Homo sapiens: one gene and its partners. The protein of the gene in region 2 interacts with the protein of the main gene of each other region in a pairwise test. Each region holds a gene or a part of one and is shown on either strand. Other genes may lie near its edges. The genes, in order: RAB11FIP2, RAB11FIP4 and PKNOX1.

Region 1 (3,653 bases), on a different chromosome or scaffold from region 2:
AACATTTAAATGATTTAGCTTGCTTCAAAGGTCACTCTTGATAGTCCCTGCTAATATTTACAGGTAAAACTACTCTTCACAATAAAGGAGAATATGTAATGAAACCTGATAGTGTAGTCTCTTTCAGTAACAAGTTTTTCCTTCCTTCCTTCTTTCTTTCTCTCTCTTTGTCCAATTATCAATACAATACAATTGGCTTTATTAACTGTTAGAGAATTTGCCAGCTTTCCTGGATGGTTCATACGGCACTCTGAGAATACTGGGCGTTTCTTCCATTACCCTTACAAGGAGGTTGTCGATGTAGTCCTCGAGTTCCCGGATGTGGGTGTCTTTCCTCCTAAGGAGTTCTTTGTGTTTCACCAGCTCCTGTAGAACCTCTTCATAGGTCAGACTACGATACCCTGCAGTGGCATCAAAGGGGTTGCTGTCCTAGAACAGGATAAAGACTGTCACTTTCATAGATATAACATCTGGGACAAACATTAAGAATTACCTGGAACTTCGACTTTTTGTTTTTCAAACCCTGATGAAGTTTTTCGCTAGCCTTGCTTAAAGTGAATGTGACAGTTCACAAATTGGCTAGCCAGTCCTGAGGCAAGAACTAGGGCAGATGCACCAAAGTTTTGACTATAACTCTAAATCCTAAAACCCTTTCTAACATTGTGGGCAATTTCCTAATATCTGAGACTGGTTATATCATGTAAGATTACATTAAGAGATGAAATATTCTATAATAAATACAACTAAAATAGATGAAAACTAAAGATTTCTAAAAGTTAACTCAGAGGAACTGTAAGAAGTAACTGAAAACTATACACTTGGACTTGTGTCCTTATGAAACTGCTTCCACTGAACTGTGATTTAATGTTATATGTTTGGCTTCTTAGTGAAGATGGTTACAGCAAAAATCTTTTCTAATTTGCTATGAAAATGGAAGCACTCGGAATTAAATCAAAGATTATCCTTACAGGAAGCCCCATGTGAGTAACTTCTGTTTTAATTTAGAAACAGGCAGAACTTTTCCTCCCCTGAGTAACTGGTCTATTTCTTTCTCCTATAATAATATCTAATTTATCTTCTTTCCCTTTTTGACCCTGGTTATCAGGAAACTCAAGAGTTCAACCATATTAATACTACGGTTAGTATATTTGCATTCTCTCCCATTTCATCTATTTACTTAACTTTATTCTATTGACAAAAATTCTTTTTAGGCAAAAGCATAAATATAACCAAAAATCTTTTTTAAAAGACACTTATTAATTCACTGTTATTACAAAGCATTCTAATATTAATGTTATATCAAAAGTGAAAGAAAAATATTTCTCAGGAATTTAATCAAGGCCCTGTAACATAATCTTTTATTTATAGTGTATAGCATTAAGAGTTTTCATTCTGTAAAACATAATGCCCAATTACAACTAAGCAATTTTTTATTCTTTTTAAATCATAGTTCTCTCATTAAGCCCAACAATTTAAAATAATTTTCATCACTATCTTTTAAAACATTTCCATTTGGCTTTAAGGAAACTTAACTAAAATATTGAGGAAATTGGTTTTCTTGCTGTTAAGGAATACTATCTAATCTATTCAGTGGAGGATGGGGAATGGGGACTGGTGAATGCAGAATGACCCCCACCCCCAATAAGAATTAAACTGTCCTTCCCTGTTTTCAGGATCTACTTTAATAGTGCTATGTATTTGGGGGTGTTCATGAGAAAAGCCAAAGTTTAACTTTTCACTGGCCCTCACCACTTCCCCAGCCTCTCAGCCCAAGGAACCAGGACTTTACCAGACCAGAGAAAGAGAAGCTAGAGTACAGATACCAATTTGATGCTTGGGTCATTGAAGCACACCCACTTCTCCAGGATAAGTGAAAACATTCAGGACTGAAAAACTTTTCCAATTTCATAGAATCTCTCAGGCTTTGTGGAGAAGATACAGCTTGCGCTAGGCCTTCAAGAGTTTGCAGGCAGAAATGCGTAATGGGGCATTTCAAGCAGTGAACTCTGCTTGTTCAAAGAAGGAAACAAGGCTCAAGGCATAGTGGCCAACAGGTAATCCAATAACAGGTACTCTGTAGAGCATGGCTGGAAAATACTGTACAGGACAGCGAGCAGACAGGGGCCGAAATGGAAGGTTTGAAATAGACCACCAAGAATGCTGAATGGTAGTATAAAGAATTTTTAGACTTTTGCTATGGAAAATAGGAAGCCACTGAAGGTTTCTAAACAGAGAAAGGATATGATTAAAGCTATGTTCCAGGAAAAGTAAAATGGCAACAGTGGAATCATTTGGAGGGGCTAAGATTAGGTATAGGGCTATTGAAATATGAAAGACCAGAGTTAGCAAGAATGAATAGAGAGGATATTAAAGGGAAGTGAGTTTAAATTCTATAAAATATGTCTAAAACAACTTAGTTTATTTTAGCATTAGAAACTGGAAACAGATGTAAGTTTCAGTCATATTTCCTTCATCCTTAAAAACATTTCAAATATTGTTCTAAAACCATTAAAGGACAATTCTAGAGATAAGTGTTGTTTTACTTCTCCCTCCTCTCTCAGATCAATTAATCTTTTATAAGTCTACACACATGCGCACACACACACACACACTCTCATGCACGTAGTTACTAGTTTAATTGGTCATAATATATAGTTTGGAGATACATAAGTATTAATTACATTCTTATAAAAGATTATGTTAAGCCGTTTTCTACAGTAAAGAGAAGACATAGTGTAGAGTTCGGTATACTTTTGAAATTTCTTAAAAATAAGCTAAAGTGTCTTACTTCAACTCGAGTAATTCTGCATAAATTTGAGAGAGAAAGCAACTTGGGTCTCACTTTCCTTATCTGATAGATGAGATGTTCTCCATGGTCCCTTTCAACTCTAAAATTGTCTGGTATACCAAGTGATTTTTCTAAACCCCACTTTAAAAACTAATAAACTCTAACTAATGTGATTTCACTTTTCTAATAAAACATTTACTGAGAAATTCATGTTCTTGTGAGAATTGCAGGGATTAATGAAAGGAAGCTAAATGGGATTCATTACTGATTAGTTGACTGCTTTATGCTTTTTCTTTATTTAACATAATAAAAGCATCTATTCAAGTCTCTCTAATCTTAATAAAATTACACATATATAAACTGATTTCTCCAAACTAATTAAGCTATGAAATAGTTAAAATAAAAGTGCACTGTTATATTTAACACTATTACCAGTTAATGTAGTTAAAAATTTTTTGTAACATTTCTCTAAAGACACTGAAGATGAAAAACGTTTCAAAAATTTGTGTTTTGATATAAATTAAAGCCATGATATAAATTAATAGTTTAATCTTTCAAAATAATCAATTATTATTTCAGACTACTGGTCATACTTTATAGCCATACTCTAGAATACACAGATATGTTATTTGGATTATTTTTTTTTTCCTTACAACAATCTAACACTAATGTGTAGACAGATTTCCTGGAAATACATTTCTGGCCTTTTCAATAAATTTTCCGTTTGTCCTTTTATGTGAAAATTTCACCTCAAATTTTAGCATCAAGTTTCTAGGCAGGAAAACATCTTAGAAACATATGTACTATGAATTATATTCTGGAAAAGAATATAAAATAATTAAAAACAGTTTCATGCTGAGTTCCA
Region 2 (3,653 bases):
AAAAGACCAGCCTGGCCAACATGGCAAAACCCTGTCTCTACTAAAAATACAAAAAATTAGCTGGGCGTGGTGGCACATGGCTGTAATCCCAGCTACTCGGGAGGCTGAGGTGAGAGAATCGCTTGAACCCCGGAGTTGGAGGTTGCAACGAGCCACTGCACTCCAGCCTGGGTGACAGAGTGAGACTCCGTCTCAAAAAAAAAAAGTGTCTGACAAAAAATTAGCTGAGCATGGTGGCATATACTTGCAGTGCCAGCTACTTGGGAGGCTGGGGCAGGAGGACGGTTTGAGCCCAAGAGCTCGAGGCTGCAGTGAGCCATGATGCACCCCTGAACTCCAGCCTGAGCTACAAAGCGAGAGCCTGTTTCAATTAAAAAAAAAAAAAAAGGCAGGGGCGTGTCTGATAAGATGGATGAGTCCCAGCAGACTTTCTGCATCTGGCCTCCTCCCAGCACAGCCAAACTGGTGGGCACAAGAGGCCAGAGGGTGCCCCAGCTAGGACTCGTCCTCCCGCCTCAATGCAGAGTGTGGTGCCACATGCCCATCCCCAGGCCCCAAGGGATCCCCAGCCCTGGCCCCACTTCCATGATGACCTCCAACCTCAGGAGCACAGTTTCCCAGAAGCATAGGAAAGAGAACATCTCTCTGGGCTCACTCTTGTCCTGCTTCCACCTCAGGTCCCAGGCACTCCCACCTTTTCTGCCAGGCTCAGGGCACCTGGGCCTTCCTTCTGATGTGCCAGCCTTGTCACTCTGCATGGTAGCCTCATTAGGGTGGGGCACATAGAGGTTGCCTGGTCTCAAAAGAGCACCTTTAACTATCACCTTTTGGGAGTAGCTCGTTGGGACTTTGCCGGCCTTCCAGGCCCCTGTCAATTCTGCACCCCCCGCCACTGCCCAAGTTAGGATGCTCTTCCTCTCTTACCATGTGCCACAGTCCCGAGGAGGCCTCCTGCCTCCAATCCTGCTCCCCATCCCCTGTTCTCTCATACACATCCACTCTTGGCTGCCTAGGTCTCACTGCCTACAGGGAACCACTGATCTGGCCCTACCTTCCCCTTCACCCCTTCCTCCAGCCACAGCTGTGGGGATACAGTTGTTTCTTCCCTGTTATCCAATTGCTACTCCTGAGCAGAGGAGCTTTAGTTCCAGGTGCTCCTGTTCCTGGAAGCCACGTATCTCAAAAGACATCGATCCCAGCCCCAGGGCTGGCTCCTGGCCGGTCTCAGCCCATCCTAGCACCCCAACCCCTTTGCCATTTCAAAGACCCAGGCTTAACCCAAGTGGCACTAGCAATTCCCCCATAGCAGGCATTAGCTCAGAGGGGACCTGAGGACTCAGGGAGCCCAGTGGGGACCATCATTTCATTTCCAAGCAGGCAGGACAGGCCCACTGTCCAGAGGAGATGGTGCTGTGTTAATGCATGGGAGAGGCCTACTTGGTGATTCTTATTTCTATTTTTCTAGCAAGAAGGACGGTCTTCAAACTGGAAAGGGAAGAGGACCATGTCACAGGGAAGTGTGGTCCAGGACATCTCTGGCTGCTTTCAATGTCTACCATTCTGACTGCCGAGGGGACGTAAGAGGGGCAGGAACACCACAGCTGGTTAAGGAGGGTGAGTTGAGCACACAGAGGCCGGTGCCAGATCTTGACCTCAATTCCTAGCAAATCTCCAGCCTAGAACAGCCTCTCAAAAATGCTTGCAAGTGTTTAGAAAATAATAATAATGACAAGGAGAGCACCAGCAATTCTGATATTATGCCTACTCTGTGCAGATACTGGACTAAGCCCTTTGTATGTATTAACTCACTCAAACCCCACAATAACCCTATAGAATGGGGACTCTGATCAGCCCCATTTGATGGATGAGTAAATAGAGGCCTAAAGAGGTTAGGGAGACAATGCAATATATCAGAAGGCAACACAGGGTCAGGATGTTGAGCCATCATGTTACATACTTATCAGAGTCCTGCTCCCTGGCATTGTAGACTTTCAGGATCAGGGCAGTGGTGTGCCCCCATCCCTCAAAAATCTGCATTTCTTTCTTTTCTTTTCTTTTCTTTTCTTTTTTTTTTTTTTGTGGCAGGGTCTCACTCTGTCACCCAGGCTAGAGTGCAGCGATGTAATCTCAGCTCACTGCAACCTCCGCCTCCCAGGTTGAAGCGATTCTCCTGCCTCAGTCTCCCAACTAGCTGGGATTACAGGTGCACGCCACTACACCGGGCTAATTTTTGTATTTTTTGTAGAGATGGGGGGTCTCACCATGTTACCCAGGCTGGTGTGGAACTCCTGAGCTCCAGTGATCCTCCCACCTCAGCCTCCCAAAGTGTTAGGATTACCGGCATGAGCCACCACGCCCGGCCCATTGTCTCCTCTTTTCTGCTGTGATACCTAGGTCAACAAAGTAGGGAACTATCAGGGACTAACCTAATCCATAAATAACATTATTAAGTAACATTCATACTTGATCCTGACTTCCTTAGTTTTTACCTAATGTCCTCTTCTTGATTCTAGGGTCCCATCCAGGACACCACACTGCATTTAGTCAGCTGCCTCCTTAGTCTCCACTTGGCTCTGACAGTGTCTCAAAATTTCCTTGTTTTGGATGACCTTGACAATTTTGAGAGGTCCTAATCAGGCATTTTGTAGAATGCCTCTCGGATGGGATTTGTCTGGCATTTTTCTCAGGACTAGACTGGGATTACTGGTTTGGGAGGAAGACCACAGAGGAAAAGTTCTATTCTCACCACATCACACCAAGGGTGTATGCCATCATCACAATCTGTCACTATCGATGTTGTCCTTGATCACCTTCTGAGACAGTGTTTGTTGGGTTTCTCCACTATACAGTTGCTGTTCCCCCCACTTTCCAAACTCTACCCTTTATAAGGAAGCCACTACGCACATCTCATGCTTACACGGTGGGACGTTATGCTTCACTTCCTCAATGGGGCAATTATCAACATACGTTATTCAGATTTCTTCTATACGAGAGATTTTCCTATTTATTTATTATCATCTGTTCAATAATTTATACATATATATATTTCATTATGGCCTCATGGATATTTATTTCATACTTTATGACCTAGTATATTTTGGTTTTTGCAAAGCATTTGATCCTGGTATCCCTGGTATTCTGGGGGTAGGTGGTAAACTGTGGACAATCAGCTCTAAGTTCACTGAACTACATATCTAATGAATGATCATTATCCATCCCAGAGCACAAGTGGCTGGGAAATCAATGTCACTGCCTGATTTTAAAACAAATAAAATAGAAACAGTCAGAGTACACTGCATTTCGTAAGGGAGCCCCCCCCCCCCGCCCCCCGCCACCCCACCGCTGGAAAACAACACTCCGATTTTTTAATGCATCAGGGGATAAGATGGGTAGTGAGTAGAGATGCAAAATATATTTCCACGGGTCTCGGTCAATACAGCATAAGCCGAAAACCACCCCTACAAGTGCCTCGGGGCCCTGTCCATGGTCCTGCCCTGCAATGTTTAACCAGCCTTGTGGATTCAGACACACCAAGCACTGCTTCTCCAGCCCGCAGGCAGCAGCACAGCTGAGAGTGATAGAGGTAGGATGCTAGATTCTCTTTCTTGACAGATACAATGTGATGAAATGAACAAGACGAAATTAAATGGGAA
Region 3 (3,653 bases), on a different chromosome or scaffold from region 2:
GGAGAATCACTTGAACTTGGGAGGTGGAGGTTGCAGTGAGCCGAGATCACACCACTACACTCCAGCCTGGGCAACAGAGTGAGACTTCGTCTCAGAAAAACAAAAGTAATGCTTTCTCAATGTTGGGTAGAAAGGATTTTCAACCCAGAATTCTACAAGTAAACAGACTGCATATCAAATATGAGATTAAAATAAACTCATTTTTAGGTTTGCAAAGTCTCAAAAAAATGTGTGTTTTTTTTTTGTTTATTTTATTTTATTTGAGATGGAGTTTTGCTCTTGTTGCCCAGGCTGGAGTGCTGTGGCACGATCTCGGCTCACTGCAACCTCCACCTCCCAGGTCAAGCAATTCTCCTGCCTCAGCCTCCCGAGCAGCTGGGATTATAGACATGCACCCGACATCCAGCTAATTTTTGCATCTTTAGTAGAGACGGGGTTCCACTATGTTGGACAGGCTCGCCTCAAACTCCTAACCTCAAGAGATCCACCCATCTCGGCCTCCCAAAGTGCTGGGATCACAGGTGTGAGCCACTGCACCCGGCCAGAATCAATGTTTTTTTTTTTTTTTTGAGATGGAGTCTCACTCTGTCGCTCAGGCTGGAGTGCAGTGGCACGATCTCAGCTCACTGCAACCTCTGCTTCCCGGGTTCAAGCGATTCTCCTGCCTCAGCCTCCCGAGTAGCTGGGATTACAGGCGTGCACCACTGCACCCAGCTAATTTTTGTATTTTTAAGGACAGGGTTTCACCATACTGGCCAGGCTAGTCTTGAACTCCTGACCTCGTGATCTGTCCACCTTGGCCTCCCAAAGTACTGGGATTACAGACGTCACCGTGCCCGGCCCAGAATCAATGTTCTTAAAGTAAGAACTGATAACACACACCAAAGACGGGCAAGGCTCAGCAGCCGCAGAGATAGCGCCACTGCACTCCAGCCTGGGTGACAGAGAGGCCTGAAAGCCCTGGCCCAATGACATTGTCATGATGGAGGTGTGGGCCAGGCTCACTGGTCTGAAAAGCTTGCCTGGCAGTTCTGCCGTGCCCTTTGTGGGGACCCTGGGGAGTGTGTGCCTACAAGACCTCTGCCCCTGGTGCACGTGCACATGATCCAACGTTAGCACTGGATAACTCTGTGTGTGTGTGTGTGTGTGTGTGTGTGTGTGTGTGTGTGTGTGTGTGTGGGTGGCAGGGGGTGGTTATGAGTGACTTTTTTCCTGTTCTTTCAGAATTTTCTGAACTTTGCAAATTCTCTACAATGCGAGAGATAAGAGTACAAAGAAACAAAACACTGACATTCAGAGAAACCAGAAATTGCTACACAAGACAAAGCTCTTCAGGCAGAGGGAAGGGCTCATGCTTGTTCTACCTGTGCCCCTATGTGGGCAGCACTCGCCCCCAAAGCCTTCCATAAAATGGCGCACGCACCTGGGAGTTCTGGATCCTAATTGTCCCAGGCGACAATGTCTGTGTGACCACTTGGCCTTGGGGAGTGACGACCGTGACAGGCTGATACACTGTGCCACCTCGAAAGGGAGAATAAAAATATGAGGCTGCTTTTAAGTCTCAATGATTTAAACCATTCTTCTTTTTTTTTTTTTTTTTTTTTTTGTAGAGACAGGGACATTGCTTTGTTGCCCAGGCTGGTCTCTAACTCCTGGCTTCAACTGATCCTCCTGCCTTGGCCTCCCAAAGTGCTGGAATTACAGATGTGAGGCACTGCGACCAGCCCTCTTCTTGATATACTTACAAAAGGAATAAAATCCCTGGTTTGATGAGCTTTTTAATCATTTCAAAAGATCAACAATCCTTTGCCAGTTGACTTGTCACTATAAAGTATCAAAACAAACTCCCTGGGTGGGCTACTCGGGCACCTGCAGCAGTGGGTGGGCAGGTGGGTGGGCGCTATGTGCCTGGCAGCCCACACAGCCCGGCTCACACACCACCAACTGACCTGGGGTGTGAGGGCTCCCTTCCTTTTGCTAGCCTCTGCTTTCTACTATTTCCTAAAATTAGCACATGTTAAGGATTTGGCCAAGGGTACTAAATAATAACTATTTTAATTCTAGTTATATTTTTGGATCAATGGTGCTTTTTTTTTTCCCACTGAGGTTTCCCTTTGTGCTATTATGTGAGGTCTTTGGTGTAAATTTCTACCCCTCCCTCTTTGCCGTGTCCCATTTCCATGATGCTTTGTGTTTTCAATGTTCTCTACGCATCAGGGAACTCTGGAATCTGTCCCTTTCCTGTAACGGTTTTGTTCTACAAGTAATACCAATGCTAAGACTGCATTTTTATTTGTCATCAATTAATGATAAAACTTAAGATTTTCACGGTGCTATTAAAAGCACAACAAAAAGCTATGTTATTTGAAAATGACAACTGGTTTTTGGTGTATATTTTCAATTCCTACATAAAACCTTTTTTCTTTCCAATATATTTTTGGTAGAGAAACAAAGAAACACAATCTGCATAAAATATTTGTTATTGAGTATTAACAAGAAAGAGGCATTCAGAGACCTCTAGCTTCTAACATTGCTATATTAGAAAATGGCATGAACTTGAAATTATATTTATACTGTCATTCTAACACACAGGACCATTTTCTGCAAAAACTCATGGAGAGTGTGTCCATTTTTCTGTCATCGTACCTGCCACCGTCGCCATGGCTACGTTTCCCTGCTGCAGCGCGGACGCCGGCACCACAATTCCCTGAGGGCTGATGGTGCCTGTGATGGCACTTTGAATCTGCTGCAAGTCAGAACACACATGTTGAAGGAATTACTAGAAAACGGAAAACCCATGTTTAAAACTTTAACATAAGTAGCATAATGACACCATTAAAAAAGGAAAGAGAAGCTTGAGGGAAAGAACATCCTCAGATGACGCGGCTTCAGAATGCACGCAGCACACACGGAAAGCAAGAGATGTTCAACTGTGTATTAAACACAACAAGCCAGCCTGCAACGTCAGCCTGCACTGTGGCTTCCAAAAGATTATCTTCATCTCACTGCCATATTCCACGTGCCTTACAGCCCAGGAGTATATCGAGGAAGACCCTGCTTTCTGATCACACATCTTTTTCATTAGACTTGGCTTGGTGGACTCTTGAGTTTTCCATGAACCAAGCTCTCCCTGACCGATAAGAGCATTCAAGAGATTATAGCACAGGCCTGGGAGGCACTAGAAGTGACCAGGGCTGAGGTATTCCAAGCTGTGCTGGGGAGTCAGCCCCTGGCACCCACCTTGACTCTTGACCCCGGCACGGACTAAGTGTGATCTTGGCTTTCCCCAGTGTTCTTGCTTGTACAGTGCTTGGAACTGTGCCCGGCCTACAGCGAGCCCCATGCAAATGTTTCTACATGCCCCATGGAGGACTCTATGCATCTGGGGTTAGATCCACATGGGCCACTTTATCCACTGACTGTGACGCCTGGGTGGGCAGCTGGCAGGGGAGAGGAGCCTCCAGTGCCGGGCCTGGCACACTCATGTGCCCTGACATGTGAGCAGTTACATAGCATAAGGGGACGCCACCCCAAGGCGGTGATTCTGTGGGCCATCATCGAGCGGAATGTGTAAGCTTAGTGGCTACGCTTAAAGCCTGCCACATTAATTAGGCTGTAATAAAAGTTAAGCTAGTCAAATCAATCATCCCAGC

The links.
Region 1: the proteins of RAB11FIP4 (region 2) and RAB11FIP2 interact in a two-hybrid assay, tested with the Homo sapiens proteins (one study listed by BioGRID).
Region 3: the proteins of RAB11FIP4 (region 2) and PKNOX1 interact in a two-hybrid assay, tested with the Homo sapiens proteins (one large-scale study listed by BioGRID and IntAct).

The regions. Positions count from the first base shown.
Region 1 is NC_000010.11:118,008,797-118,012,449, forward strand, and holds part of RAB11FIP2 (rab11 family-interacting protein 2), read right to left. Parts: intron 430-3,653; coding exon 202-429; 3' UTR 1-201. UniProt on the Homo sapiens protein: A Rab11 effector binding preferentially phosphatidylinositol 3,4,5-trisphosphate (PtdInsP3) and phosphatidic acid (PA) and acting in the regulation of the transport of vesicles from the endosomal recycling compartment (ERC) to the plasma membrane.
Region 2 is NC_000017.11:31,394,609-31,398,261, reverse strand, and holds part of RAB11FIP4 (rab11 family-interacting protein 4), read right to left. Parts: intron 1-3,653. UniProt on the Homo sapiens protein: Acts as a regulator of endocytic traffic by participating in membrane delivery. Required for the abscission step in cytokinesis, possibly by acting as an 'address tag' delivering recycling endosome membranes to the cleavage furrow during late cytokinesis.
Region 3 is NC_000021.9:43,016,001-43,019,653, reverse strand, and holds part of PKNOX1 (homeobox protein PKNOX1), read right to left. Parts: intron 2,747-3,653; coding exon 2,647-2,746; intron 1,522-2,646; coding exon 1,424-1,521; intron 1-1,423. UniProt on the Homo sapiens protein: Activates transcription in the presence of PBX1A and HOXA1.